Regions from separate parts of the Homo sapiens genome. Here regions 1, 3, 4, 5, 6 and 7 are each linked to region 2. The links come from fine-mapping of genetic effects on gene expression. A gene starts in region 2. Each other region holds a variant in brackets. All regions are shown on one strand. Distances are from middle to middle. Region 1 overlaps TMEM154 (transmembrane protein 154). Region 2 holds the start of TMEM154 (transmembrane protein 154). Region 3 has its middle 72 kb from the start of LINC02273. Region 4 overlaps TMEM154 (transmembrane protein 154). Region 5 overlaps FHDC1 (FH2 domain containing 1). Region 6 overlaps TMEM154 (transmembrane protein 154). Region 7 overlaps TMEM154 (transmembrane protein 154).

Evidence for each region.
Region 1: its variant is fine-mapped to the expression of TMEM154 in whole blood (INTERVAL, PIP above 0.99).
Region 3: its variant is fine-mapped to the expression of TMEM154 in whole blood (INTERVAL, PIP above 0.99).
Region 4: its variant is fine-mapped to the expression of TMEM154 in whole blood (TOPMed, PIP 0.99).
Region 5: its variant is fine-mapped to the expression of TMEM154 in whole blood (INTERVAL, PIP above 0.99).
Region 6: its variant is fine-mapped to the expression of TMEM154 in whole blood (TOPMed, PIP above 0.99).
Region 7: its variant is fine-mapped to the expression of TMEM154 in whole blood (TOPMed, PIP 0.96).

Annotation. Positions count from the first base shown.
Region 1 is chr4:152,647,152-152,651,219 of GRCh38, forward strand. All of the region lies in intron 3 of TMEM154 (transmembrane protein 154), which reads right to left. Among named protein-coding and RNA genes, the nearest start is that of TMEM154, 31 kb to the right of the region's middle. The variant A/G (reference allele first, on the strand shown) is at 2,367.
Region 2 is chr4:152,677,536-152,681,603 of GRCh38, forward strand. It overlaps TMEM154 (transmembrane protein 154), which reads right to left and starts at 2,462. Exons shown (of 7, transcript NM_152680.3): 1 at 2,335-2,462. The coding sequence starts at 2,398. It overlaps LOC105377495 (a long non-coding RNA gene), which reads left to right and starts at 2,550. Exons shown (of 4, transcript XR_939359.3): 1 at 2,550-2,769; 2 at 3,052-3,138; 3 at 3,540-3,605; 4 at 3,828-4,068. RefSeq lists enhancers at 2,096-2,925, 2,236-2,545.
Region 3 is chr4:152,170,930-152,174,997 of GRCh38, forward strand. No RefSeq gene overlaps it. Among named protein-coding and RNA genes, the nearest start is that of LINC02273, 72 kb to the left of the region's middle. The variant C/CA (reference allele first, on the strand shown) is at 2,478.
Region 4 is chr4:152,624,644-152,628,711 of GRCh38, forward strand. TMEM154 (transmembrane protein 154) reads right to left here. Exons shown (of 7, transcript NM_152680.3): 7 at 1-3,918. The coding sequence ends at 3,903. Among named protein-coding and RNA genes, the nearest start is that of TMEM154, 53 kb to the right of the region's middle. The variant A/C (reference allele first, on the strand shown) is at 2,242.
Region 5 is chr4:152,947,238-152,951,305 of GRCh38, forward strand. All of the region lies in intron 2 of FHDC1 (FH2 domain containing 1), which reads left to right. Among named protein-coding and RNA genes, the nearest start is that of FHDC1, 13 kb to the left of the region's middle. RefSeq lists an enhancer at 2,680-2,974. The variant T/C (reference allele first, on the strand shown) is at 1,863.
Region 6 is chr4:152,641,219-152,645,286 of GRCh38, forward strand. TMEM154 (transmembrane protein 154) reads right to left here. Exons shown (of 7, transcript NM_152680.3): 4 at 3,197-3,224; 5 at 1,870-1,955. Among named protein-coding and RNA genes, the nearest start is that of TMEM154, 37 kb to the right of the region's middle. RefSeq lists enhancers at 1,996-2,065, 3,211-3,270. The variant G/A (reference allele first, on the strand shown) is at 2,340.
Region 7 is chr4:152,636,046-152,640,113 of GRCh38, forward strand. The region is part of intron 6 of TMEM154 (transmembrane protein 154); the gene reads right to left. Among named protein-coding and RNA genes, the nearest start is that of TMEM154, 42 kb to the right of the region's middle. The variant C/T (reference allele first, on the strand shown) is at 2,387.

The DNA of each region.
Region 1 (4,068 bases), 30 kb before region 2:
TTCCTAGTATAGTATAACAGACCAGGCTCTACCCAAGTGCAGTAAGAAACAGTATGTCTGCTTCTAACTTCCCAGGGGACATAGTGTGCAGGTGTCCATGCTCTCCTATAAAGCATTTCTGTGGGAGCTTTCCAAGCAAAACGCTGGTATGACCTTCCATGATAGTTGTATTTTACCTGAAAAAAAATCAAATTTTGCTCATGTAAATATTCTGCTTTTATTAACTTTTAGCATTCAGTTTTTCTGAAAAGTTGTCCATCTGTTAAGCAGTTAGTGATCACGTCTGTGTTAAAGCATTGGCTGATAAGAGAAAAAAATTCAAATAAAACTCTCCATCAAAAACTTTTGTGATAAGCCAATTGTTTTGAAATGCTAAGTTTTCTCTGTTGTTTTTTTTAAAGTTAGGCATATTTAAGGTAAAAATAATGTACCAATTTTTAGTAAGGATAATGTACAAATTTGACTTTCCCTCTGAGCGTAGATGTTCTTTAATAAACATTCTAATGTTCTTTAATTAAGTCACTTATTCAACAAACATATACAAGCAGCTAGTGTGTGTTGGGCTAGGCGTTGAGTTAGGTAAAGGGATGATAATAAGCTAGCACTTAGCACTTATGCCAGGTACTGATTTTTTCTAAGTGATTTGCCTATATAAACCATTTAATTCTCACAACTCTATGAGGTGGGTATTGAATTTGCCCATTTTACAGATGAAGAAACTTAATCAGAGAGTCACGGTGCCAGGAAGTGCAAGCCAACCAAGCAGTGTGTGTGGTTTGAGTCTGGACTCTCAACCTCAATGCCACACTGTCACACAAGACAAATAAGACTAGCTCTTGGTTCTCCTGGACCTTAACGACCACATCACCCAGAAAGAAAAGAAGAAAAAAGAGAAGGAAGGAAGGAAGGGAAACAAGTCACCAACTTATGACAATGTGAATACTGTGAACAAAGAGTGTGAACAAAGTATTCTGAGAGCACAGAAGAGATGGTAATTAATTTTTCCTAGGGGAGGATTATTCAAGGCTTCCTAAAAACTGGGCCCTAGCAGGGGGGCGTGGTGGCTCACACCTGTAATCCCAGTGCTTTGGGAGGCTGAGGTGGGAGGATCACTTGAGCCTAGGAGTTTGAGACTTGCCTGAGCAACATAGCAAGACTCCATCTCTACAAAACGTTTTTTAAAAATGTCAAAAACTACTCAGGCATGGTGGCACAGGCCTGTGGTACCAGCTACTCTGTAGGCTGAGGTGGGAGGATCACTTGAGCCCAGGAGTTTGAGGCTGCAGTGAGCTATGATTGTGCCACCGCATTCCAGCCGGGGTAACAGAGCAAGGCCCTGTCTCTTAAACAAAACAAAAACAGACCTGGGCCCTGGAAAAAGGGATGGCAGTTTGCCAAGCAGACAGGAAGAAAATTCCAGACAGAAGAAATGGTATCAACCAGGCATGGAGGCATCCTGAAAGTCAAGTCAAGTTCTGGGAATAGCAAATACTTCAAGTGTTGTTAGAGTGGAGGATGCATGGACCATGTCTGAGGTTGAGGCTGGCTCTCGCTTGTAAATGGCTTTTGAACCTTGAGACTTTCACAATGAAATTCAATGAAAAATCAATTTCTGGATTTGGAGCCTAAGAGCCTCACCATGTGAGTGGATACCTCCAACATCCCCCCACCCCTTGAGTCCATTAGGTAAAACCAGTCATGGTTTGGGGAAGGAAATTATGACTTTTCCTGAATTTTAAAAAATTTAAAAAGCTCTGTTTGCTTTTTTTTCTTAAGCTTAGAAAGAAGCCTCCATATGACCATGTTATTAGGAAGTCCTGAAATTTCAAGCAGTGGAGAAACATGTATTTCCCACTTCTTTGGAATCTATTATATGGGCCTCTGCCATGAAAGGAAATACTCTTCGGGGCTTCTTCCCCAGCTCACATTTGCCTCATCTGCTGACTGTGAAAGATTCCTCTGGCACAGAGACAGTGAGGTGGGCATGTGGGACAAGGGCATGGCCCCAAAGCCAGAGGTGCCCTGTCATGGGTGTGAGGGACATAAAGTGAGTTTTGTATACATGTATGACTATGTATTGTATTAGAGACGTTCCTATCCTTTGAGTAACTTTTTGGAAAGACTATAAAGGCTTTAACTTAAAAATCGAATCCGAGCGAGTTTTACTGGCACAAGCCAAAAGTACCCAAGTCTGCTTTAGACCTAGAACTACCCTGACTCCTAGCACGTGATGCTCCTTGAATCACAACTGAATACTCTCAAAGTGGGTCTCTGACTGAGGGAATTTTCTATAATTGGTTTTCGGATTGATGTTAGTAATCTTTAGACAGTTGAAGAATTTGATTATAAAAGTTAGCATAGCTTCA[A/G]TGGGAATAAGAACAATGCTTCCTCCAGGACTTTTCAAGATCAAATTGGGATGTGGGGTGGGGGAGAAAATAAAATCTGTAACAGAAATATAGATGAAAGAATGCTCTTCTGGTGGTGATGACCCCAAGGCCTCTAGCCTTCCCATCCCTAACCCTAATCTGACTCACTCCTTGATCAGCCTTTCTCTTTCCCCAGTGATGGGAAATGTTATACTGGCTTATTGGCTAAAATTATACAGGATCCTCATCTGGATTAGGGTCAAAGATGGCAGCAGTAGAAAAGCATCCCCCAGAAATATGCAGGTTCAGGTCCAGACCACTGCAATAAAGTGAGTATTGCAATAAAGCAAGTCACATTAATTTTTTAGTTTCCAAATGCATAAAAAGTTATGTTTTTCCTACAATGTAACCTATTAAGTGTGCAACATTGTGTCTACAGAGACAATGTATATACCTTAATTTAAAATACTTCATTGCTAGAAAATGCTAACGATCATCTGAGCCTTCCGCAAGTTGTAATTATTTTTCTGGCGGAGGGTCTTGCCTTGATGTTGATGGTTGCTGACTGATCAGGGTGGTGGTTGCTGATGGTTGGGAAGGCTGTGGCAATGTCTTAAAGTAAGATCACAATGAAATGTGTCACATTGATTGACTCTCTTTCACAAAGATTTCTCTGTAGCATACAATGCTTTGTTTGATAGCATTTTATCTGCAATAGAATTCTTTCACAATTGGAGACGATTCTCACAAAACCTGCCGCTGCTCTACCAACTATGTTTATGGAATATTCTAAATCCTCTGTTGTCATTTCAACAATGTTCATGGCATCTTCACTAGGAGTAGATTCCATCTCAAAAAAAAAAACAAAACTCTTTGTTCATTCAGAAGAAGCAATTTCTCAGCCACTTAACGTTTTATCATGAGATTGCAGCAATTCCATGGCATCTTCAGGCTTCACTTCTTATCCTAGTTCTCTTGTTCTTTCTACCACATCTGCAGTGACCCCTCCACTCAAGTCTTGAACCCCTCAAAGTCATTCATGGGTCTTGGAATCAACGTCTTCCAAAATACTGTTGATGTTGATATTTTGATCTCCTCCTATGAATCGGAAATGTTCTTAATGGCATCTAGAATGGTGAATTCTTCCCAGAAGATTCCTTCCCAGATTTATCAGAGGACTCACCATCTATGGCAGCTATGGCCTTACAAAATGTATGTCTTAAACAATAAGACTTGAAATTCAAAATGACTCCTTAATCCATGGGCTGCAGAATGGATATTGTATCAGCAGGCATGAAAACGTTAGTCTCCTTGTACATCTCCACCAGGCCTCTTGGGTGACCAGGTGCATTGTCAATGAGCAGTAATATTTTTAGTGGAATCTTGTATTTTGAGCAGTAGACCTTAACAGTGGACTTAAATTATTCAGTAAACCATGCTATAAACAAATGTGCTAACATCCAGGCTTGGTTGTTCCACTTACAGAGCACAGGCAGAGTAGATTTAGCATAATTCTTAAGAGCTGTCAGATTTTCAGAATGGTAAACAAGAATTGACTTTAAGTCACCAACTACATTAGCTTCTAACAGGAGAGTCAGCATATCTTTTGAAGCTTTGAAGCCAGGCAGTGATTTCTCCTCTCTAGCTATTAATAGTCCTAGATGGCATTTTTTTTTTTTTTTTAAGTAGGGACAGGGTTTCA
Region 2 (4,068 bases):
AATTTTAAAAATCTTTAATTTAAAATCACCTTTTCCATGATGAATCATCTCAAAGTCATAGCTTTTATTCAACAGCTTTTTGCAAGTGGGCATTTTTCAGACATTGGGAATCCCAGCAGGGCCCAATTAGCATGTTGGATTATTTAGGTAATCCCTGCACTCTACTGAAATGCAACTTTTCATCTTTGACTTCTCTTTACATTCCAACACTACCTGTTTTCAGGAGCTATCAGTTTTTTTTGTAATCAGCCTCATATCCATTCTAGGGATGATTTTCATATTTATCAACAATTATTTTCTCATTTATGCTGAGCCCTTACAGGATTTTGGAAAGTCAAAGGTGAACTACAGAGGATTTTCCCTGGAGCTGTTCACAGCCAGTTGGGAGGCATGGACACAATTATGGTTCAAAGTGATTAGCAGAAGTTTAGGTCTATCGGGGCACAGCAGCAGGTACGAGTAGAGCTCCAGGGAAGGGGCAGAGAAAGGAGACATCAAGGAGGAGATCACATTTAGTTTGATACTTTTAAGGTGATACAAGAATTTGCTAGGTAGGAAAAAGAATGTATTCATTATAGGCAAGAGCCACGGAGGGGGACGACAACTGGAAGGAGGTGCCACTGGGAAGGAGGTTGCAGTGAGAGTCTAAGGGGCAAAAATGAGGAACAAGTGAAGGGGCATAAATGAGGGGTCCTTAAGGGGGAAGATGTGCACGATCAGATTCAGGTGTCAGAAAGGCAACTTTAACCAAGTCTCTTCAGATTCTCTTTTTGCATCTCCTGAATTGCAGACACTAGGACTCAATCATTTTTTAGAAGCTAAAAAAAAAGTTCAGGCAAGATGAATTAGTATTAAGGGAGTGTTTGAGGCACCTGTGGCAGTGTTGTGCAATAGAAGAGGTGGAAGGAGGATGGCTAGGCTTTTCTTCCCTGATGTCCTACTACGAAAGGTTCCAGAGCTCTTGGCAGAGACAGTGATTGGTTCCGGGGCGGCGGTGGGGGGAGGGGGGCAGTGGTGGTGGGGGGTGGAGGAGCTCAAAGAACTCTGGAGTAGAAGCCAGAAGAGCTGACTAGCAGCAAGACCCAGACATCTCCCTTCTTCCACCTCTGTTTCTTCACCTGTGTGCCCAATATGGTTTGAGCTGCATCATCTTCAAGTTCCCTTCCAGCTCCAAAACACTGGGCATAAAACAACACATCAACTTCCAAACCCACTCTGAACACTAAACTCAATTTAACCAGACATCTTTTCAGCTGGAATGATTTGCCTTCCACTTTGTTTTCTACCTCAGATGCCTGGGGGACCACATGGAGAACACCCAGGGGAAGAGAAATTGATGGAGTGGGGTGGCTGGGTGCTGGCTGCTGACCTCCAGGAAGTTGTCACATCTGTTAGGTTGGGGCTGATGTCCCTCATTCTATCTAAAGAACTGTAGCTTGAGAACTTTCCTTTTGCTTGGTAAATACTGCCCTACACTAGAAGCAGTCGGTGTTCATTGACAGAAACAATGGGCAGCCAGTGTATTTGCCCAAAGGCAAGTCAACAAGAGAGGCAGCTGAAGGTGCTTGTGCTTGTTGTAGCAACTGGCAAGGGTGTAAATCAGTTGTTGCTTTTAGCCCATAATAATGAGATTCAATATTGTTTTTTCCAATACCTTTGATTGGTTCCAATCATATTACTTTTTCAAACAAATCTTCATTAGTAACAATCAATGCAAAAAAAAAATCTGTAAAAGTAACAAGGTGCAATAAAAGTAGATGAAAGACCTTACTTGATGTGTTAGAGGGCTACCCTCTAACACATAGCTCTTTGGTAGCTCTTCGGATAATTTCCCGTTTCCTTTTTTTTTTTTTAAGTTTATGTCGTTTCTTTAGTATGCTTTCTAGTAGTAAATTTTCACACCCCAGTTTTTCCAGGAGATTTTGGAATCAGCAGACTTCTCAGCCCACACCATAAAAAGCAAATTAATCATGTCTCTGTTTCAGCCAATTGAAGCTTTTGTTTTTTTTTACATAAACTGCCAAAAAGTTTATGGTTTTCTTAATATGCCCATTAAAGCTGGTAAATTACAGGGACGCACACTTCCTGGAAGACAAAGACTGAAAGAGGGTTAAATGAAGTGAGAGCTGTAGCCAGTTTAGACAGCTGCAGCGAAAGCGAAGTCCCCTCTCCATCCCACCCCCCAAAAAAAGGAGTTCTAATTTTCTCCACTTCTTTCACAGAAAGGATTAGATTTTCTGGGTGTCACCCTCCCCGGCAGAGTTCTGTAGCCTCGGGCACCCTACCAGCTTTTGCGATCCTCCTTCCCAGGAGTAGGAAGTGGAGGCGGCTTACCCCGGCCGACGGGAACGAGCGCGATCACCAGGGCGAAGACTAGGGCTGCGCGGGGAGCCTGCATGTCCGCTCGCCTCGGCAGAGGCGCGCTCAGGATGCTGCGCCGGGCTGCAGCCTCTCTGAAACGTGAACATTTCCTGTTTCCTGCTTGTTTGGGTCGGTGCTGACTTGAAGGAGAGGTGTGTGCCTGTTTTTTAGGAAGTGATGTAATTCTGCAGGAGCCTGTCAGACCAGCAAGGATTGCAAAAGAGAAGTTGCTGTTGAAGCACTGGTTCTATTATCACGCCTCTCCAGCCCTTTGGAGTCCCGGCCTCCAGCTTTTGAAACCGTCCCCGGGGCAACAGAGTCCCTTGCTCAGATGTCGTTCGGTATCTGGGACTGGGAGGGGTCCTGGACCACACGCATTCTCACTCTGTGATTTTGCTTATCCCCCAGGTGAGGCTCCGGGGCTGCCTAGACCCTAGGAAGAAGCTGTCCTGTAGAACTTTCTGCCCTGATGGAAATGTTCCAAGTCTGCGCCGTCTGATACAGTATCAGCCACATTGGCCACTGAGCATTTGAACTGAGGCTAGTGCTGATGGAATTTAAATTTTATTGAATTTTTATAAAATTTTAATAACTCCAAGTGGCTAGTGGCTGCTGTGTTGGATAGCGCAGGCCCAGACAGCAGGGACAACTGCATCATCAGAAAACTGCCAGACCACTTCTCTCCGCCAGGTCCATTCTCCTTTCTCCACTCTGGAATGCCCTCCTCCCACCAAGGCCCACGCCAGATGGAGGTGGATGCCACACCCACACCTTAAGGTTATGTTCTGCTTCCCCAGAGAGAAATGATCTTTTCAAGGTCCATTTCCAAAGGAGAATATGCTCTGAGGGTGGAGGTAGGGGTGAATCTGCATCTCACCTTCCTTCCTTCTTACTTGACAATCAAGTTCTCAGACAACAAACAAAACAGGACAGAAACGAAATAGAATAATGGTAGAAATCCTATCCAATCGAAACAATACAGAAAGGTTGTGTCTAGTATACAGTGGAGATTAGTGTGTGTTGGGTGTTCTATTGGAGGTCCTTCCCTTGGTTTAGGTTTAGGGCCTAAGCATTCAGAATGCAGTTTCATAATCGTGGTGCCAAGAGAGACAGACAGATGGAGAGAGGGGTAGTGTTGAGGCATCAGACACATCTCATCTCTAAACCTTTCCCTGCAGATCACCATCTGAGTCATGACTTCCCGTCGTTTGTCTTCAGTGATCTGGTTGGTGCAAACGTATGAGGTGACTGGAATTCCTTAGCCCCTGACATAGCTGTTAATTTTTCTTTAATGCATTGCTGCTTTTCAATGTCATTAGTCACTGTTTATCTCAGTTATTATTCACAAGAAATAGGTTGGTGATTCATGTAAGGATCAGTTTGTTAATGGATTTACAGTATGCACTTTAATGTTTTAAACTGGCAATTAAGTCAATTCTTGATAAAATATGCTTTTTGCACCACAGGTGACAATACAGAACAAACAGCAGGAGAAAATAGACGTGCTCAAAACTGGGTGATTGATTTGAAAACAACAGAGAAAGAACTATTAATTAAACACTTGCTGAGCATGTGAATAGATCACGGGCTCCAAGACCTGCTGGTACTGAGTTGGGGTGGCAATTATTCCTGTACAAGCACGTGTTTCTGCAGCTGTGACACACACGTGCAAGAAAGCAGGCCCAGGGCTTGGGAGTTCTCTCCATT
Region 3 (4,068 bases), 510 kb before region 2:
AAATTTAAAATTCAGTTCTTCAGGTGCACTAATCACATTTGCAGTGCTTAGTAGTCACATGTGGTGAGTGGCTACTGTATTGGACAGCACGGATATAGAACATTCCCACTGTTGCACAATGTTCTGTTGGATGTTGCTGGGTAGCCATTCAAGTAGCCACTCAGCTGTAGGGACTTGGTAGTGATTACAGGGGCCTGAGAGTTCGGTTCAGGCTGAAGTCATTTCCCATCAACTCCCAAGTGTCCTCGTTTTTCAGATCTTCTTTCGCCAGCTTGCACTGAGGCCAAACATAACTTCTTTACAGTCTTTAGATGACAGAGAAACCCTCTTCCATCCTATCAGAACCAGCCCCAGAAAAAATTTGGAAGTGGTTTTGGAAATTTAAAAATATAAGCTATAGGACAAAGCAAGTATTTGGGAAACTGGGGGAAAAAAAAGTTTTTATCAGGCTGAATAGATACCCTGGACCAAGAACAAATTCCCCCACTGCGATGGGTGGAATTGTGTATCCCTCACCCCAAATACACATATTGAAGACCTACCCTCCAGTACCTCAAAATGGGACTGTATTTGGAGACAGGATCTGTAAAGAGGTAATTAAAGTAAATTGGGGCCATTATGGTGGCCCCTAATCTAACATGACTAGTACCTTTATAAGAAGAGAAGATTAGGATGCAGATATACACAGAGAAAAAACCATGTGAAGACACAGGGACATGATAGCTGATATGATTTGGCTGTGTCCTCACCCAGATCTCACTTTGAATTGTAATAATCCCCACATGGCAAGGGCAGGCCAGATGGAGATAATTGAATCATGGGGGCAGTTTCCCCCATACCGTTCTCGTTGTAGTGAATAAATCTCATGAGATCTGATGGCTTTATAAATAGGAGCTCGCCTGCACAAGCTCTTCTGCCTGCTGCCATGTAAGATGTGACTTTGCTTCTCATTTGCCTCCCGCCATGATTGTAAGGCCTCCCCAGCCATGTGGAACTGTAAGTCCATTAAACCTCTTTCCTTTATAAATTACCCAGTCTTGGGTATGTCTTTATTAGCAGCATGAGAATTGACTAATACAACAGCCTTCTATAAGCCAAGGAGAGGCCTTAGAAGAAACCAACCTTGCTGACACTCAGACTTTGGACAGCTATTTGCCAGAACTGTGAGAAAAAAAATTCTGTGGTTCAAACCACCCAGCTTGTGGCACTTTATTATGGCAGCCCCAACAAACTGAGAGACCCAGCATGCAGATTCTCCATACAGCAAACCAGAGACCTCTGCAACACAGCCTGTCAAGATTTTTCAAATCAAGCTGGAGATTTTTTGAGTTTACATTGCCATCATCACAATTTTTACCTCAAGCATAACAAAGCAGCTGTTTGCACAGAGGATTATTGTTCCGTGCCTTCGCCTGCAGGGAAATTCAGCCTTTGATGCCGCTTACAGAGCCAATGGGACAACTGGAACATCAGGACGTGACAGACAAATTACCCATGAGAAAGGGCAGAACGTTTTAAAAGAGTGTTTAAAAAATCATGTTGCCTCCACTGATGTTAGCCTGTGACATCCCTTACCAATTTTTATATGTCAACTCTAAATTAGATCGGTTTGTTTATTTATACACATTGAGTAGAGTCATACACATGTATGATATATGGATTTAGCAACTGTTCACATAGTTGCTTCTCTTCAAGGTGTTTAACAAAAATTAACTAATGCTACATGCAACCTCCCATATGTTCACTGTAACATGCAACAACCCACAGAGAATGTGATGAAAACTTTAAAACAAAATGAAGTTCTAATTCGATTATTTTCTGTTTGATGGGATTCCTGGGGGAATTAACTACCAAATGGAGATTCAAATATCTAGTTAAGAGAAGGGATTAATATTATCCAGATAGTTATCTTGATATGTTAGCTTGTATCTGTAATAGATATTCTAGCCTTTATCTTTTTTCCTATTTTTCCTGGAGGCATTGCAATATTGCATTTAAAAAAAAAACCTTTCTGCCATATTGAGCAAAAGCAACATGATTAAAGTAACAAATGGAAACAAAACATGAGGATGGCATTTTAGGATTACAAAATGCTTTCCTGACAAATTTTCATTTCATGTTTACCACATTTTTTAAAGATTAGGTTATTATTCCTGTTTTAAAGATGGGGAAACTAAGTATCAGAAAGGTAAAGTGGGCCGGGCACAGTAGCTCACTCTGATAATCCTAGCACTTTGGGAGGCTGAGGCGGGTGGATCACTTGAGGTCAAGAGTTCGGGACCAGCCTGGCCAACATGGTAAAACCCTGTCTCTACTAAAAATACAAAAATTAGCCAGGCGTGGTGGTGTGTGTCTCTAATTCCAACTACTTGGGATGCTGAGGCAGGAGGATCACTTGAACCTGGGAGGTGGAGGTTGCAGTGAACCGAGATAGTGCCACTGCATTCCAGCCTGGGCGACACAGTAAGACATTGTCT[C/CA]AAAAAAAAAAAAAAAAAAAAAAGAAAGAAAAGAAACAAAAAAGAGAAGAGAAGAAAAAGAGAAAAGAGTAAAGTGATTTTCCAATACTTTCACAGCCAGTCAAGAGAGAGCCAAGCAAAAATTTAAACCTGGGCTTCCAGCAGTCTTTCCCAATGTCTCCAGATGCTCTACTCCTTCCACCAGGATTTATCACAAGCTATAGCCAACTTCTCACAAAAGAATGTTAAAAAGGTGCTTCTCTGTAAAGTTGCCCTCCTGGCCTTCCCTTCATTGGTGCTGTTGATAGTGGTGCTTCTCCTGCCTGAGACAAGCCTGCAAAGGTGGATGGATATTCCTACCAGGACACACAGGGTGAGACTGCAATGGCAACCTGCAGAGTCCAGGGCTTGCCCACTATGAAAATGGTCTCCAAGTGTGCTCCTGCTTCATCTGGTCACCAACCTCCTTATGAATGAGGTGGGGCCAGGGCTCAGGGATTTAGAGTGAGGAGGGGGCCTCCAGAACCCAGAGGTAGGAACAAAAAGGCAAAGGTGGTAACAGCTGAGATGAACTTCCTTCTCTGCATCCCCTGCCATCCTTTCCACCCGCCTAGGCCATCTGGAGTTTCCAATTATGTGTCTTGCCCAAAGCTCACCTACCCTACACAGGAGTATTCTAGAGCAGAATCCATGGTGTGGTAAGGACCTGCCACACCCTCAACCCCCTTTAGAGGAACACTTTCCTAAAGCACAGCATTCTGTCTCCAGCTTTGTATTAATACTTTTATTTAGTGGACCATTCATGCCACCTGGGCCACAACTGATGATACCCAGGACTAGTGCCCCAACCAATGCAAGCTGCTCACCAGAGTGACCAACCACCTCTGAGGTGGCTTGGCACCAACTCACCCCAATAGAGGTGCTCTATATTGCAGAGTGACAAGCTGACCCCATCAGATGTCTCGCCTGGCACATGTGAACATGCGTATGGGCTCAGGCAAATGACTCGGGTTCTCCATTCACCAGTCCTGACTGTGCCGAGACCCAGAGTGTCTGTGGCTAATGAAGAAAGATGTCCTAATGCTGCCCCTTTCCCTTGTGTCCTAGAAGTAAGGCCCATCACCAAAGGAGGTCTGGGTCAGTCTTCCCTTAGCAATCTTAAATAGCCCAACAGATCAAGTATGATTCTCACTTAGAGGGAAGTCCCAGGAGCCCAAAGAGAAAAGTGACACACACAAGAATAACATCACCAGCTCACATGAGGGACCTGGGTCCCAGAAACCCACAGTTAAACTATTCTTTCCACATTTTATTTTATTTTATTTATTTATTTTGAGACAGAGTCTAACTCTGTCACCCAGGCTGGAGGGCAGTGGTGTGCTCTCAGCTCACTGCAACCTCCGCCACCCGGGCTTAAGCAATTCTCCCTGCCTCAGTCTCCCGACTAGCTGGGATTACGGGTGCCTGCCACCATGCCCGGCTAAATTTTTTTGTATTTTTAGTAGAGACGGGGGTTTAGCCGTGTTGGCCAGGCTGGTCTCAAACTCCTGACCTCAGGTGATCCACCTGCCTCAGCCTCCCAAAGTGCTGGGATTACAAGTGTAATATAATT
Region 4 (4,068 bases), 53 kb before region 2:
GAGGACTAAGAAGGAAATAAAACTTTGGTGCCAGACAAGACAGTATCAAGATAAAGCCAAAGAGTTGCTAAAAACAAAAAATAATAATAATTCAGGCAATTGGTTGTCTGGGTTCTGCAATTTGAAATATTCCACTAGACACTAATATACAGGAACTCTTTTGGTCATTGTCACATAGCAGAAATGCTGCTATATGTGAAGTTGTTCTGGACTGCCTGTTATAGCTATTAAATGGAAACCCCAGAATTCATCCTGAATGTCTCTGAATGTGAAAAGTCACATGCGTTAATTTAATTCAGTATAAAATTTCCATGTTCTCCCACAAGGAGGATTTCAGCAGTGTCTTCCCAGCATGAAACCATGTCTTATCACTCCACCAGATTCAGAATTGGTACTAATTCTGACAGAAGCTGAAACTAAAGCCTATGTTTTCTTTAGTCAACATAAGGCCTTTTTTCAGAGATGGTGTGAATTAATAGTTTAAACCACCAAAATAAAAGAATAGACAAGTATTTTCTTAACATATCCATTTCCATTGCTAGAGCTGCGGTGATCAGCAGAAGCATCTGCCTGGCTGTCAATATCAAGGTGGATCCAGGCTGTTGGAACTGGTGGATCCAGGGGTTGGAACGGAGGAATACTAAAAATGAGACTTGGAACTTGGAAGGCCTACACCACGAGGGCCAATTCTGCCATAAGCCCTATTGCCCAGATATGTTACATAAAACATCCAGATATTACAGTGAAAGTCAGTGTGTGGCCAGACACAGTGGCTCACAATTGTAATCCAGCACTTTGGGAGGCCGAGGCTGGTGGATCACTTGAGGTCAGGAGTTTGAGACCAGCCTGACCAACATGGTGAAAACCCCATCTCTACTAAAAATACAAAAATTAGCTGGGCATAGTGACACAGGCCTGTAATCTCAGTTGCTTGGGAGGCTGAGGCAAGAGAATTGCTTGAACCTGGGAGGCGGAGGTTGCAGTGAGCCGAGATCGTGACACTGCACTCTAACCTGGGTGACAGAGTGAGACTCCATCTCAAAAAAAAAAAAAAAAAGTCAGGTGAGAAGAAGTAGCACATAGTGAAAATGAATATAATAATTTTACAGCTGGTCGGGCTCAGTGGCTCATGCCTGTAATCCCAGCACTTTGGGAGGCTGAGACAGGAGGACTGCTTGAGCCCAGGAGTTTGAAACCAGCCTGGGCAACATAGTGAGACCCTGTCTTTAAAAAATAAAATAAAATAATTTTACAGCTTTTGGTTCTCCTGTATTATACAGCATAACTAGGAGAAAAAAAAACTATGAAATTATTTTCCCAAGACCAGTTTTACTCATCTTTATCACATTTGTTTGATGTGGGTTATCCAGGAGCCACCTACATCAAGGTGGATCCAGGCTGTGGTCTTGCATTGGGTAACAAAGCCCTTCCCAGAGGGAGGAGTCACACCATTGGGTCAAGAGTCATGAATGGGTATTTTTACATATTTATTAAAACAAGTTTCCTGAGAAGTTTGACTAGGCTATGTTGTTGTTAACCTAGTTTGCTTAAAATGTACGAAAATGCAATCAAACTTACATATCTTTTAAATATTCGAAAGTCAGATTTTGTTCTGATTGCCCTATCCAATTAGGGCAAATTAGTGAGGGTTTTTTTGGTTTTTGTTTTGTTTTTTTAACAATAGTCTGAAACATAAAATTAAGTTTGGGTTTAAAAACAATTCTTGAAACTGTCATAAACATATGATATCTATTGATTAAACAGTAATAAAAAGACACAAGGTACAAGAATTGAGGCTTGGCTGTTCTGGCTGTATACTAACTTCATATACCCTGACAGAATAAACTATCTTTTTAAAAAGTGCTTTGTACACTGCACAATTATAGCTTTACCAAATAAAAACTCAATGACATGTCGCTGAAATTTGCTTCTTCTAGAATTTGAAATTATTTAAAATACTGCATGAGAATATTTTTATCATATTATATAATATGACTTCATCAACATGAAGTTCCAGGACCCCAGATGCCTCTCTGAGAAGTTCATTATTTGATAGGGTTGGATCAAATGTAAAGGCCCAGGTGTTCAAAGATCTTAGATACCTAAAGAGAGAAAGGGGCAAATGGAGGCTCTTCTGAGAGTCAAAATGTTGATGAGAAACAAACTGAAAGTAGCACACATAGGCAGAAAAATAGACAAGTTATGATTCAGAAAACAATTGTATGCAATTTTGGCATAAAT[A/C]TCTGAGAGTCACTGTGGGCCATGAGTTGAAAAGGAACATGCAAGAGAGCAAGGAAAACACAAAGCCTCATTCAGATGTGCTGGTGAGAATATGACAGAAAATCTGTTGAAGTTGTGTACCATGAAGTCTGTCTTTTGTCAAAGTTCTATGCAGTCCCAGGATAGCGTGATAGCAGTGGTTAAACACAACCAGCTAGTTATAGCTTTCATTGTATGGAAAGACCTCTCTGGTCTGGAACTCTGCCTTTGAAATTATCCACGTAGTTCAGAAGGCAAATACTTGTTAAAGGGATCCCAAAAGGTAGGAGACAAGTAGTTTTTGTTATGCATTAGGGCAGACTTTCAAGCACAAGACACAAAATTGAGCAGCAAATGTTTGGGTAGTCCCATCTCCCTTCGGTTTATATGTGGGTAGTAAAATAAATAAAATTTTCCTTCTTTGTCTCTTTCTTGAAATAAAATATCAGGTATCCAAGGAGAGCTGAGGATTCTCAATTTGCTAGATTGCTTTAAAGGGGTCAGATTTAGAAAATTAAGGAATAAATGAAGAACAATTTTACTGGAGTAGGTGTGGTCAATAGGCCCTTTTCCATTTTGTGCCATTGCTTTTAGCACAAGGATGTCAAAAATATCACATAGAATGTCATCTCTGATGGACTGACAGAGACCTCCTGTTGTGCTGTGTTAGGACATGAGGCTTATCCCAGCTTGGCGGGAGAGAATGCTAAGCATGATGAGTGAGATCTGCCACAGGCACGGATATTTCCTGCTCCTCTTCTGTTTGTTTCAAACCACCTTCAGGATCTCTGAAACATAGAAGGCTGACAGATGACTCCCACCTGCACATACTTCCTACCTACATGTCACATCCAAGGGAGGTATGGTGAAACAAGTGTGAGCTTTGCAGAAATGCTGACAAGCAAGGGAATTTCAGCTGAGGAGAACATTAGTTCTTTCACTGAAGATTCCTAGTTTCTCTGAGAAGTTCTTAAGGGTGACCAGACCTGGCCATGCTAGGGTCTACAAGTTACCAAACGCCACCTCATCAGGACTGTGGACCCCTCTCACTGTGTCTTCTTGGCAGGCAGAGCTTACTGACCCCCTGGGATGGTGTATTCATTAAAATACTTGCTGTGTTTGGTGTCTTTTCCATGACATAACACTCCTCGAGAAAAGTTCCTGCTGAATGTAGTTTACCTGTCCCACGACTTGAATAATCAGAGGAAATTATCCAAAGCTGGTTACTGACCCAAAAGGAAACCATCGATAAAACAGCTTCCTGATTTAGGCCCTAAGGAATGAAGCAGAAAGGTGACGAACATTTATCATGACCAGAGTGAGTTCAGTGAGCTAGAAGTTGGCTGAGAGGAGGCAACACATGTTGATCAGAAGTGAGCACATCACCCGCCTCCTTCTCCACCCTCAGAGGCAGCGATGGATGGCAGCCAGGCCTTTTCCTAGTACTTCTCAATTGCACATTCTTCCAAGTGCAAGTGATGCCATCATTAGGAAGAGTGGGCGTTGGAAGAAACAGCAAAAGGTTCTTGTGTCTATGTTGATTTGAAATTAATTAAATTTGTATCCTCTTCATCCTCTGTTGGCAGCCTCAGCAGACTCCCTCAGGGGCTGCTTCTCTTGGAAAACATGAGCGCCATTCAGGTTTAGGATTCACTGTCACTGTAAAAAAAAAAAAAAAAAAAAAAAAAAACAAAAAAAACACACACACACACACAAAACAGTAATATATTTCTTTCTTTTTTTTTTTTTTTTGAGACGGAGTCTGGCTCCGTCGCCCAGGCTGGAGCGCAGTGGCACAATCTCGGCCCA
Region 5 (4,068 bases), 270 kb after region 2:
AAGACATTTAGTATGGGAAGATATGAAATGTTACTATCCTTGTATCTTTGTTAACTAAAAATTAACTCAAAGAGACTGTAGATATGATGGTATAATAATAATTAAACTGTAATAAAGCAATTAGAAATAAAGACATATTACTGGGGATGAGACGAGAGAGATTCAGCTCAAACTCATCTTCTTCTCAGAGTTGGCTGATCCCATCCCCTGAGAAGCTCTGTAGTTCCTGACCCTCTATTACTGACATTCCTCAGGCCCCCTGGGAGCCTTCCACCAGTGTTAGCTGAGGGTGTGCGTGTCTGCCTCTACAGTTTGACCAGCTCTTAAGGGGAGGGCTGTATCTTAGCCATTTGGTATCCTCTAAAGGAAACAAAAGGTTACTGAACTGGACAGAACTGAACCAAGAGCACAAAGGGATCAGCTTATGAGGCATCAACAGATCAAAATTGGGGCTCACAAAGAAAGCAGAAATATTGAAACACCTCAGGTCATTCACTATGATGTCTGTAGCAATATAACATTGACCATCTAGGAAATAAGTAAAGTGGCTAATTAGAAAAAGAAGACCACAGAAGAGAGAGAGAGAGAGAGAGAGAGAAGGGAAGGATGGAAGGAAGATTGGTTTTTCTAAATTTATGACAAGTAATAAATACTTTATTCTCCCACACTATAATTCAGCTGTCAGTCATTCTCACCTTTTGTTATGATGCCGGTATGTTCCAGAATTTCGGGATATGCTCACAGTCCAGAACTGTAGAACTAGATAGAGCATTTCAAATACATTTGGGAAAAAATGTGCTTCAACTGGATTTTCATTTTTTTTTCCCCAAAGTTGGGAGAGAGGACAATTTCCAATTGACAGCCAACTAAAGTGAAAAAGAAAATGAAAAACCATCAAAACCCGAAAGCTAGGTCCATATTGGAGGATAGAGGAAGATCTTCACATTTTTGTTTTTCAGGACTTGAAGTGGGATGGAAATAGCCACTATGTAGTGTTACTCAAGTAGGTAAAGAAGCCCCCTTTGACATAAAAAACAAAAGTGGTTTAAAAGTTTCTTCCTTCACCTTGAGGACATTATGCTAAATAAGCCAGTCGCAAAGGACAAATACTGTATGATTCCCTCATAGGAAGTACTTAAGTAGCCAGATTCATAGAGACAGAAAGTAGAATGGTGGTTGCCAGGAAATGAGAGAGGGGAATGGAGAGTTAATTGTTTTTTGTTGTTGTTGTTTTGAGATGGAGTCTCCCTCTGTCACCCAGGCTGGAGTGCAGTGGCATGATCTCAGCTCACTGCAACCTCCACCTCCTGGTTCAAGCAGTTCTTCTGTCTCAGCCTCCTGAGTAGCTGGGACTACATGCACATACCACCACGCCCAGCTAATTTTTTTGTATTTTTTAGTAGAGATGGGGTTTCATCATGTTTGCCAGGCTGGTCTTGAACTCCTGACCTCACGTGATTTGCCCACCTCAGCCTCCCAATGTGCTGGGATTACAGGTGTGAGCCACCACACTGGGCTGAGAGTTAATTGTTTAATGGGTACAAAGTTTCAGTTTTGCAAGATGAAGTGCTCTGGGGATGGATGGTGGTGATGGTTATACAACAATGTGGATGTACTTAATGCCACTGAACTGTATTCTTAAAAATTGTTATGGAGCCAGGGCAATTTAGTGAGACCCCCATCTCTACAAAAAACTTAAAAATTAGCCAGACATGGTGGCTCGTGCCTGTAGTCCCCGTTACTCGGGAGGCTGATGCAGGAGGATTGCTTGAGCCCAGGAGCTGGAGGTTGCAGTGAGCTGAGATAGTGCCACTGCACTCCAGCCTGGGCAACAGAGCAAAACCTTGTCTCAGTAATAATAA[T/C]AATAATAATAATAATAATAATAATAAGAAGAAGAAGAAGAAGAAGAAGAAGAAGAAGAAGAAGAAGAAGAAGCAGAAGAAGAAAATGGTTATGGACCAGGCATGGTGGCTGAAACCTGTAATCTCAGCACTTCTGGAGGCCAAGACAGGAGGATAGCTTGCGGCCAGGAATTCAACACTAGCCTGGGCAACATAGTGAGACCTCATCTCCACAAAAAAATGTCTTAAAAATTATCCAGGTGTGACAGCATGCATCCCTAGTCCTAGCTACTCAGGAGGCTGATGCAGAAGGATTGCTTGAGCCCAGGAGTTTGAGGCTGCAGTGAGCTATGATCACACCACCGCACTCCAGCCTAGGTGACAGAGCAAGACCCTGTCTCTAAAAAAATAAATAAATAAAAAGTTATGATGGCAATTGTTATTTGTATTTTACCACAACTGAAAAAAAGTTTCTTCTTCCTTCAAAGGATATGGGAGGCAGATTTTGTAGTGGATTGATGAAGTGAATTGAAACTACAAAAGTTGTAGTAGAATAAACTAGAAGAGCTGATTTGGAGGTTTTAGCAAGAGTGATGGTGTAGCCACATGTCTCACTGAGTGGCATAGTGCTGCTGACTGTTTCAGTGGGTATCAGCACAACCCTGGCCCCCTGGCAGTTGCGGGGAAACTGTGAGTAGAGCCCAGGCCCCCTTCGCATCCTAGCAGGAAATCCTTGAAATGTTGAAATGAGTTGAGTGCGTTAATTACCTCATTACCTTATATTTCAAGCTGCCTTGTTTGCCACTCTTTGGTAGGAATTTTGGGGGAAGAGGTAACGAACTCTGCAGTATGCTGACTGTACCCGTGGCACCGACTTCTGTGGCGGTCCTGCCTGCATGTCCTGGTGTGACCAGAGGAGTAATTACCGGTTGATCGGAGCTGGTGGGAGGGAGGGGATGATGCAGCTCACTCATTGGCTGGGTTTGTTTATCCCTCTTCTTTGGGCAGTTTCTTGCCTCTGATTTGTCAGCTTGTGCAGCCAGTGAGTCCCACTGGGATCCCATGTGCAGATTCCACTGCTCTGAATGATTCCAAAACACCACCCAACCCGACCCGACTTTGTTTCTGAATGGCCCAGCTTTGAGAGAGCAAGCATTTGGGAAGTGAGATAAGCTAATTTACATGTGCAGTGATAACCCTCTTTAAAGGACTTCAACAGTCACCCTTATAACATTGCTTTGGAAGGATCGAATGCGATAAAGTGGAGAAAGAGACTCCTCAGACACCAGGCAAATCTGAGGATGCCGGGAGCGAGTGGGACTGTCCCTGAATGATATCAGTTGTCTCATTTTAATGTTGTTTGGGTGAAGTGCTGGGCTCTGTTTTTCCTGTAAGGTGCTCAGTCACAGCCAGCTCGGGTTTTCCCTTAGGAATATCACCCAATTCTCTTTGTTTCTGAAACACAGCTTGAGCTGTAGAGACGCCTGCTTCTACAGCTGGGCTGCCCCTGTGTTGGGGCACCGTGGGCTGCTCCTGTAGGGCCAGGGCTCAGGCCCCTGGAGGCTCTCTTGCCTGGGGAGAACATGATTCCCATCTGTCATCTCTCAGATACAGCTCTGGGGTCACCAGGGGACTTGGCCAGGCACACGTATAGCTTCTTACACATCTGTCCCCATTCCTGGAGAAAACTCACAATGCAAGCACCATGCTGGTAGGGAACGTTTGCTACGTCTCTATAGGAAGCTCAGTAATGTGAAAACCCACAGAAACTAGAGTGAAAAGGAGTCAGAGAGAACCAGGCTAACCTATCAGTTCAACACTGCTCTGGGAAAGTTATAAAATGATGTCTATGAGGCTTAGTTTCCTTACCTGTCCAGTAGAGATCATAAGAGTAATTTTCTCCTTCACTTTTCCTGCAGCAATGTCTCCGGATCTAGGCTGAGTGAAGAGAGTCCCAGAGGGTTGAGGGGTGAACAGGATGAGCGTGGGGCTTGGTTCACGTGGGGTGTGGGAGAGCACTGCAGTCAAGGGTTGAATGTAGCAGAAGGTGGCACTTTCATGAAAGGAATACGAAACAAGTCATTTATCCATCCTAGGTGAATGCAGAGGAAGTTCTTTGAACGTGCTGTGTAACTATATCAACATACAGATTCTTATGCATGGCCTTTTAATTTATTAATTCTAATGAACCCAGTTTTCTGTCTTAATAAATCGAGATTCCTTTTTT
Region 6 (4,068 bases), 36 kb before region 2:
CACAATTCATCACTGCTTGGTTATTCTGTCCCTGCAGCACCCCAGTGCTCCAAAAGCTAGAATCTGCATGTCTCAGGATAGACAGTGGAATAAGATGGCTTCGCCTGAGGTTCCAACGTGTCTGCAGAATGATTTCCATCAGATTGCACGGTAGGAAAGAATTGGGTAAAGTGGGAAAACAGCTGATCTTCCTATGGTCATGAGTTCTTTTCTATTACACCACTCGTTATTTTTAAGGGCAAAAAAATTCTTTGATTCTATCACCTATGTGTCAAAATAACTCAGCTTTAGTTGTCAAATAGAAATGCCTTTTCCAGTTTTCTGGTTTTAGTGAGTATGACAGAATCATGATTTTATATTTCACAAAATCTCTGGCACAAAACGTAATACAACAACATAGCAAGAAGAGATTGCCTTTCTGTGGTGAATTTTTTTCTTCTACCTTTTTTTTTTTTTTTTTTGCATTTTCCAAATTCTACTATGTATGCATATTACTTTTAGCAACTGAAAAACAACAAAACGAGACTCCTGAAGGACTATCTCAATGACCCGCCCCATCCTCAAATAGAATGGCTTTACAGAGTCCTTCTTTCCTCAATATGAAAAACTGTTAGAAATTGTACAAGTTAGCTGAGTGGCTCTTTTTTGAAATCACACCTTGATAAGCCTCTGGTAGCAATAATTCTTTTTTTTTTTTTTTTTTTTTTTTTTTTTTTTTTGTTGAGATGGAGTCTCGCTCTGTCACCCAGGCTGGAGTGCAGTGGCACAATCTCGGCTCACTGCAACCTCCGCCTCCTGGGTTCAAGCTATTCTCCTGCCTCAGCCTCCCTAGTAGCTGGGAGTACAGACATGTGCCACACCCAGCTAATTTTGTATTTTCAGTAGAGATGGTGTTTCACCATGTTGGCCAGGCTGGTTTCGAACTCCTGACCTCAGGTTATCCACCCGCCTCGGCCTCCAAAAGTGCTGGGATTATAGGCGTGAGCCACCGTGCCTGGCCTGGTAGTAATAGTTCTTATAACCAGTCTCTGAATTTTCTAACTCTACTGTAGAGTGTTGAATTTGACAGACCCTAGGGTATTTTTTTAAGATAAATGGTAAAAAATACAAATGACATGATAATGCTGGGTTTTATTCATTTAATCTAAGTAGTAAAAATAATTAATTTTTAAAGGGAATTTGAAAAAGAAAAAGCAGCTGTCATCATTTTAAAGTCCCATTATTGATTTACTAAAAAGTAAGGAACATATACTTCCATTACTGCCAGATATCAATTGGAAATTGTTATATGGGGTATGTATATCACCATCTACATGAGCAATGTCCAATAGAGCATTCTAAAGTGATAGAAATATTCTACATTACACTGTCCACTTAGTAGCCATTGGCTACTAAACACTCAATATTTTTTAATTTTAATTTTAATTAATTTAAATTTAAATAGCCACATTTGGTGATTATCTATTACGTTGAACAGCACAGATCTATGGATACTACATTTGATAAAGTTTTATATCCATAGTCAGTTTAAAATTGTAGATCTTTAAATTCTGTAATGTATAAGGTAATGCCAGATGCTAACTTTTTCCAGATCATTTGGCCTCAGAGATTTCCTTTCTTGAATAAAATACCATTTTCTGCTTCAAAAAGACCATTTCAACAACTTGTACAGAAATAAAAACAAGTGGCAACAATTAAGCTGAATATTTAAGTATTGTCAGACCAGGTTTATTATCTGCATGTACCAGATCTAATGTGGGATTGGGTTCTTCTGTCTCACTCCAGGATTTATTGAGATATTTATAAAGCTGTTGCAGCCTTCTGTTACTAGAGAGGAAAGAAAAAAAACAACTTTAGGTTACCACATACCATTTCTATTCATGCTGTTCATCCATTTATCAAGCTCTTCCATTTCAATTTCCATAACAGAGGGTGTATCTTCCTCAAAAATAGGGCTAGAAATAGAGAGCAAAAGACTTGTTAGAAAGAAATGTGAAAGATGCCTAATTTCATTTGGAAAGAGACTAGAATGCTGATCCTGAGGAAGATGAACTTGATTCAGTGCCTTATGCTCTAGGGAAGCCTGGGGGCTTGCCCTATTCCAAACTACCAAACTTTAATAGGAAGAAAGGCTACCACACAAACAAACATACATTTATCACAGGTCCAAAAGTGGGGTGCCCACAGGCCCAACAAGTGGACAAAAAAGGGAACCCAGGAGGCTGACTGCTCCCCTGAAGGTGCAAAGTCAAGTCTGCAAGGCTCCCAGGGTGAGGCCCTTCCGGGGAGTTGCCATATGAAGCATTTTAGCCTTGCTTAATTTCACTTCCTGTTCCTTG[G/A]GGTTTTTTGATCAGTGCCCCAGGTCAAGAGGCCACTGTCAACAGGCTACAGTTATCACCTGTCCCTTCAATTCCCAGGCCTTTCTCTCTTGGAGAAATGGAGCAGTTGCTTTCAGAAATTCACCGCCCTCACTTGCAGAAGCTCAAAGTGCACAGTCAGGGGACAGAGTCCGTGGTTAGTGGAGATGGGGTTGGGGAAGGATGGACCACCAGCTCTGAAAGCAGCGTAGGCGGTACACTGCGTAGAGGAAGCGATAAAGTTTCTAAACCAGGAGGCTGCTTGGAAGATGGGGAGGATATGGCATCACCCCAGAACATGCTTCTGAGTGGAGGCTTGTTTTTCTCTCTCCCACCCCTCCTTCCCTCCCTCCTCTCCCTTCCTCCTGCTCCTCCCACTCTTCCCTTCTCCTCCTCTCTCTCTCCCATCCCTGGGGGTTCTTGCTGTGTGAACTTCTGCTTCGACCAGGGCTCCCTGCTAAATACCAGCTCAAGTATCTTTCCTGGTGATAAAATTTCTAATCAGAGTAAATGAACCAATGTCCTTGAAATACAGCTAGGGATAGAATATTTAACTGCTATGCACTTGAAATTGGTAGCAGTCAGGATTCTTTTCTGAATGTAGGACAATGAAATAAAACAGATGCCAAGCTGTCTTTGCCCAGATCACACTCACACGCTGGATAGGGTTTGGGGATGCCAGCACATCCTCCCTCAGGCTGCCAAGGATCTCCAACCCCGCCTGGGAAGCAGGAGAGTCCCGCAAGATGTCAGAACAAAAACACCTGAAAAGGCAGCTGTCCACCTTAACAGTTGCTGTTCACACCCCAGGTGGATCAGAAGCAGCAGGGAAAACTTACACTTTCACGTTTTCACTTCCCAGTTCATCTAAAAGGAAATGAACATAAAGGTCATGTTAGCTTTGTTCTTCTGTAACAACTTTTAATTTCAACAACAGCTGAAGTCTCCTTTACAAAGAGAGCAAAATGACATTAAGTAACATTTTTAAAGGAGCGATCATTAACTTAGAGTCAAAGAAGTGTGGATTGCCATATTAAAACGAGGTCCTAATCCGTGTGAAATCTGCTTTCTTTTAGATGTGGATGGTCTGCTGAGAACGCTCACTTCAGACCAGATGTTCATCCGTCTTTATTTTTTACATCCACAAGAAGAGGAAAACATTGGTAAGGAAAGGCAAGGGAGGGTGAAACAAGAGGGCTTGCTCCTTGGCCTCCTTCAGTAAAATGTCCCAGATCTAAAGGCTGCTGCTTCATCTCCTGTGATACACCATGCTGAACACTGTGACACTGTGCCTCACTCCTGGTGGAGGATGTGGGATCTTCCATCAAGGGCTCCCCTTGGAATTTTCCTTTTACCCCTGCTCTTGGCATGGCTGGATCCCTCACAACTTCAGGGTCCCAGCTTAAATACTCTTTCCTCGGGGAGGCCTTCCCCACCTACTCTATTTAAAGAAGGGCCCATCTTTCCTGTTGCTCCCCAGCTCAGCACCTTGCTTGCATCTTTCATAATATTGGCCACAATTTCTCATTGGTCAACCCGTCTGTTTGATTTTTTTTTTTCTGTCTGTCTCTCTCACTAGACAAAGTACAAAGGGGCAGGGATCGTGTCTGTCTTATTTATCGTGGTATCCCCTCAGCTCTGAGCCAGCTACCACAGTACCTTGTAAATGCCTAGTCAATATCAGTGGAATAAATGATTAGGTGTTAACCTC
Region 7 (4,068 bases), 41 kb before region 2:
GCCTCCAGAAGAAGGAAGAGGCTGGCTAGATTGGAAGAGTCATGATAAAAGGGACTTTTTCTTGTTTGCACCACTATCTAGTGGCATTTGGGAGGGTGTTGTGAGTGTGGGGTTAGGCAATAAGGGAGTGTGTTTTCTACACAGAAGTTAAAACAATAATAAAACCAACCAAAAGGATCTGTTTTCTGTCGTTACCATGTGTTGGCAATGCTTAACCAGATCAGGGATGAAATTCTCTTCAACTTGAGGGCAGACCCCTCCTAGCACCCTCCTCCCACTGACACTTTGCCCCTGGGCAGTGCCAGGCACATAGCAGGTATGAATCACGGAAAAGATGCTAAGATGGAAAATAAGAATATGAAACACTCCCCTCCCCCATGATTCCTTTGTTGCTTTTCCTATTGATTTCTTTCAAACATGAAAACCATAGTGTCCACTTCTCATAGTATTTTGTACATCTCTGGTCCTTATTAAAATCCTGTGCTGTCTTTCGGATTCCATAGCTCAGGAAGAATATCCATTCAATGAGGACAGAGGAAAGTAATGAACAAGACTGGCCAATGAGACAAGGATAAAGTTCTGAAAGGCCTGAGATTACAGACCCTAACAAGACAAGCTTGAAGAGTTGAAGTCTTTGCACACAATGTGGTATATTCAGTGTAGGATGGTTATCAGATTGACTCCCTTTTCCCAGAAGCATGGTGGTCGTAGGTTCTATGGACTTAATAGATAACAGAGGTTCTATGTCAGGCATGTCTTTCTAGCATCAAGGAAAGTGGAACCCTGTAAATGAATTCCAGAAGGCTTTGTTTATCAGGAGAAAGGAGAAGTGTGTCTTCCACTAAATTCAATTTTTAATGACTGTTACATACTTTCTGAAGCATTAAATTCACCTGTATACTACTTCAATGACAGAGGAAGAATCATGCACAAGGTAAAAGCCAATGGAAAACTTTGGGTGATAATGGTGTGTCAATGTAGGTTGATTGATTGTGATAAATGTAGAACTCTGATGGGGGACGTTGATAATGGGGGAGGCTGTGCATGTGTGAGGGCAGAGGGTATATGGGAACTCTGTATTTTCTGCTCAATTTTGCTGTAAACCTAAAACTGCCCTAAAAATAATCTTTTAAAATCCCAGTGTGGGAGGGGGAAGAACAATTGCCACTGCATAAGAATAATTAGTTTCACTTGCGTGGTGCTTTAAAACTTAGCTACTGCCGGGTGCGGTGTCTCACGCCTGTAATCCCAGCGCTTTGGGAGGCTGAGGTGGATGGATCACCTGAGGTCAGGAGTTCAAGGCCAGCCTGACCAATGTGGTGAAACCCCATTTCTATTAAAAATACAAAATTAGCCAGGCGTGGTGGTGGGTACCTGTAATCCCAGCTACTTGGGAGGCTGAGGCAGGAGAACTGCTTGAACCCAGGAGGCAGAGGCTGCAGTTAGCCAAGATTGCACCATTGCACTCCAGCATGGGCAACAAGAATGAAACTCAGTCTCGAAAAAAAAAAATTAAGATAAAAATAAAACCTAGCTAGGTGGTTTCATTCTCTTATATCATCCTGTGAAACTAGAAGGACAGATGTTCTTATTTCCATTTTTCAAGATGAAGAAATTAAAACTCAGAGAGCTAAAGTGACTTGTTTTAGTCTAAAGAACAAACAAGCATTCAAATTAGGTCTTAAAATGAGTCTTCTAAGTCCAATGACCCACAAATGCACTTTCCACCTGTATCTATAACAATTCACAAGCTTTTAGAGAAAAAAGAAATCTTATTTTTGTCCCAGGGTAGATACTCAAAGTAAACATTTTATGGATTATCAATTTAATTAAAACATTAGGATAGGAAAAAGAAATGTACATAAAATTATGACAGAAAAGAAAGATTATCCAAATTATAAGGTGTTACTATCCTTTTAAAAACTTCAGACTGGGCGAGGCACAGTGGCTCACTCCTGTCATCCCAACACTTTGGGAGGCCAAGGCAGCAGAAGGATTGCTTGAGCCCAAAAGTTTGAAAGCAGCCTGAGCAACATAAGGAGACCCTGTCACCACAATAAAGTAAAATAAAATTAGCCAGGCATGGTGGACAAACCTGTGGTCCCAACTACTCTGGAGGCTAAGTTGGGAGAATCATTTAGGCCCAGGAGGTTGAGGCTACAGTGAGCTGGGATCACACCACTGCACTCCAGCCTAGACAACAGAATGAGAGTCTGTCTCTACACAAAACAACAAAACACCAAAAAACTCCAGAGTGATAAGTGGACTATTCTGAAATCACCAACATTAATGGGCCTATGCCAGTAATTAAGGAGAACTGAAAGTCTCATAGTAGATCAAACAAATTCCTGATTTCCCAGGATTGGTAGGTCCAGAAAGAAACCAC[C/T]AGGGAACACAGGGACAAAAATAATGCTTCGCCCACCAGTATTGATGTGTCTGGGTCTTAGGATACAGGCTTAGGATAAAGGAAGTGAATTTTTTTTTAATCCAGTGAGCTGGGTCTTAGTATAAAGGCAGTGAGTTTCTGTACATCAGTCCTAACTTCCTAATAATTATACTAGCAATAACCAGTGCTTATTGAGAACTTACTTTGTTCTGGGCTTTGTTCTAAATCCAATGTACTTTTCTTAGATTTTTTAATGAATAAAAAATTAACTTTGCAATATCATAATAACCTTTGAAGTAATCAGAAAGTGCCTAGTGGTACAAAGATCTGGGACTTGCCATTCTTGGTTCTCGAATGCTGGTGCTGGCATTACGAGAGGGCATAAAGTGAAGGCCTGACAGCCATCCTGTGAATGCCACACAGCTCTGGACCCACAGTGGAATGTAGACCTTCCCTTTTAAAACAATCATTTAACTATGTGAAGGCTCTAGCTCATTTTCTCATTATTTCAAAAATCTGACTTTTTTTTTTTGAAACAGAATTTCTTTCACTCTTGTTGCCTAGGCTGGAGTGCAATGGTGTGATCAGTGCTCACTGCAATCTCCGCCTTCCCAGTTGAAGGGATTCTCCTGCTTCAGCCTCCCAAGTAGCTGGGATTACAGGTGCCCGCCACAACGCCTGGCTAATTTTTGTATTTTTAGTAGAGATGGAGTTTTACCATGTGGGCCAGGCTGGTCTCGAACTCCTGGCCTCAGGTGATCTGCCTGCCTCAGCCTCCCAAAGTGTTGGAATTACAGGCATGAGCCACATTGCCTGGCCAAAAATCTGATTTTTAAGAAGATTTCACTGCCATACAATTCTGTAATGTTAAGCTTCTTCCATGTTGCCAACAATTTCAAAGAGCAAAAGGCAGGAATGTAAAAACCACTGAGGGTAGTTTTTAGCATCATTGAGGTTGCTCATCAGTGATAGAGTAATAAGATACTTAAGATATTTATGGAGTTTTAGTAGTGATCTGAGCCCTATACCAGACATATATAGTTACATATTTCCAGGTAAGATCAAAACATGGGGAAAATATTCCTTTGTAATATTCCCCCTGGCATTGTTGTTTTCTTCCACCTGCTTGTTAATCAATCTCTCTCTCTCTCTCTCTCCCCCTCTCTCTCCCTCTCTCTCTCCCCATTTCTTTTAGAGACAGGGTCTTGCTCTTGCTTGTTGCCCAGGCTGGAATGCAGTGGTACAATCATAGCTCACTACAATCCTGAAATCCTGGGCTCAAGCAATCCTCTCACATCAGCCTCTCAAGTAACTAGGACTACAGGCAAGCGCCACCAAGCATGACCTGGAATCTCTTTTAAATAGGATAGAATCCTTCCTGAACTGGCAATAATCTTAACATGAAAATGCCTAGGGTGGTGATATTGACCTAAATCTACAATAGGTATAGACTTTGGCATCAGAGCTGAGGTTTGTCTGAGTAAGACTGTGGTGGTGTGATGTGAGGAGAGATTTGGGATGGTGAATTCTTAAGTGAGGTTTAGGGGGGAGACGCAGGAAAAGGGTCCGAAGATAAACATCTGACTGCCCCCAACCATTGCCTAATAATCAGTATTCCCTCGCGATGCTCAGGCTTCAGGGGTTGCCTGGTGACAAGTGACTGACTGGCACCAGACTTCTGG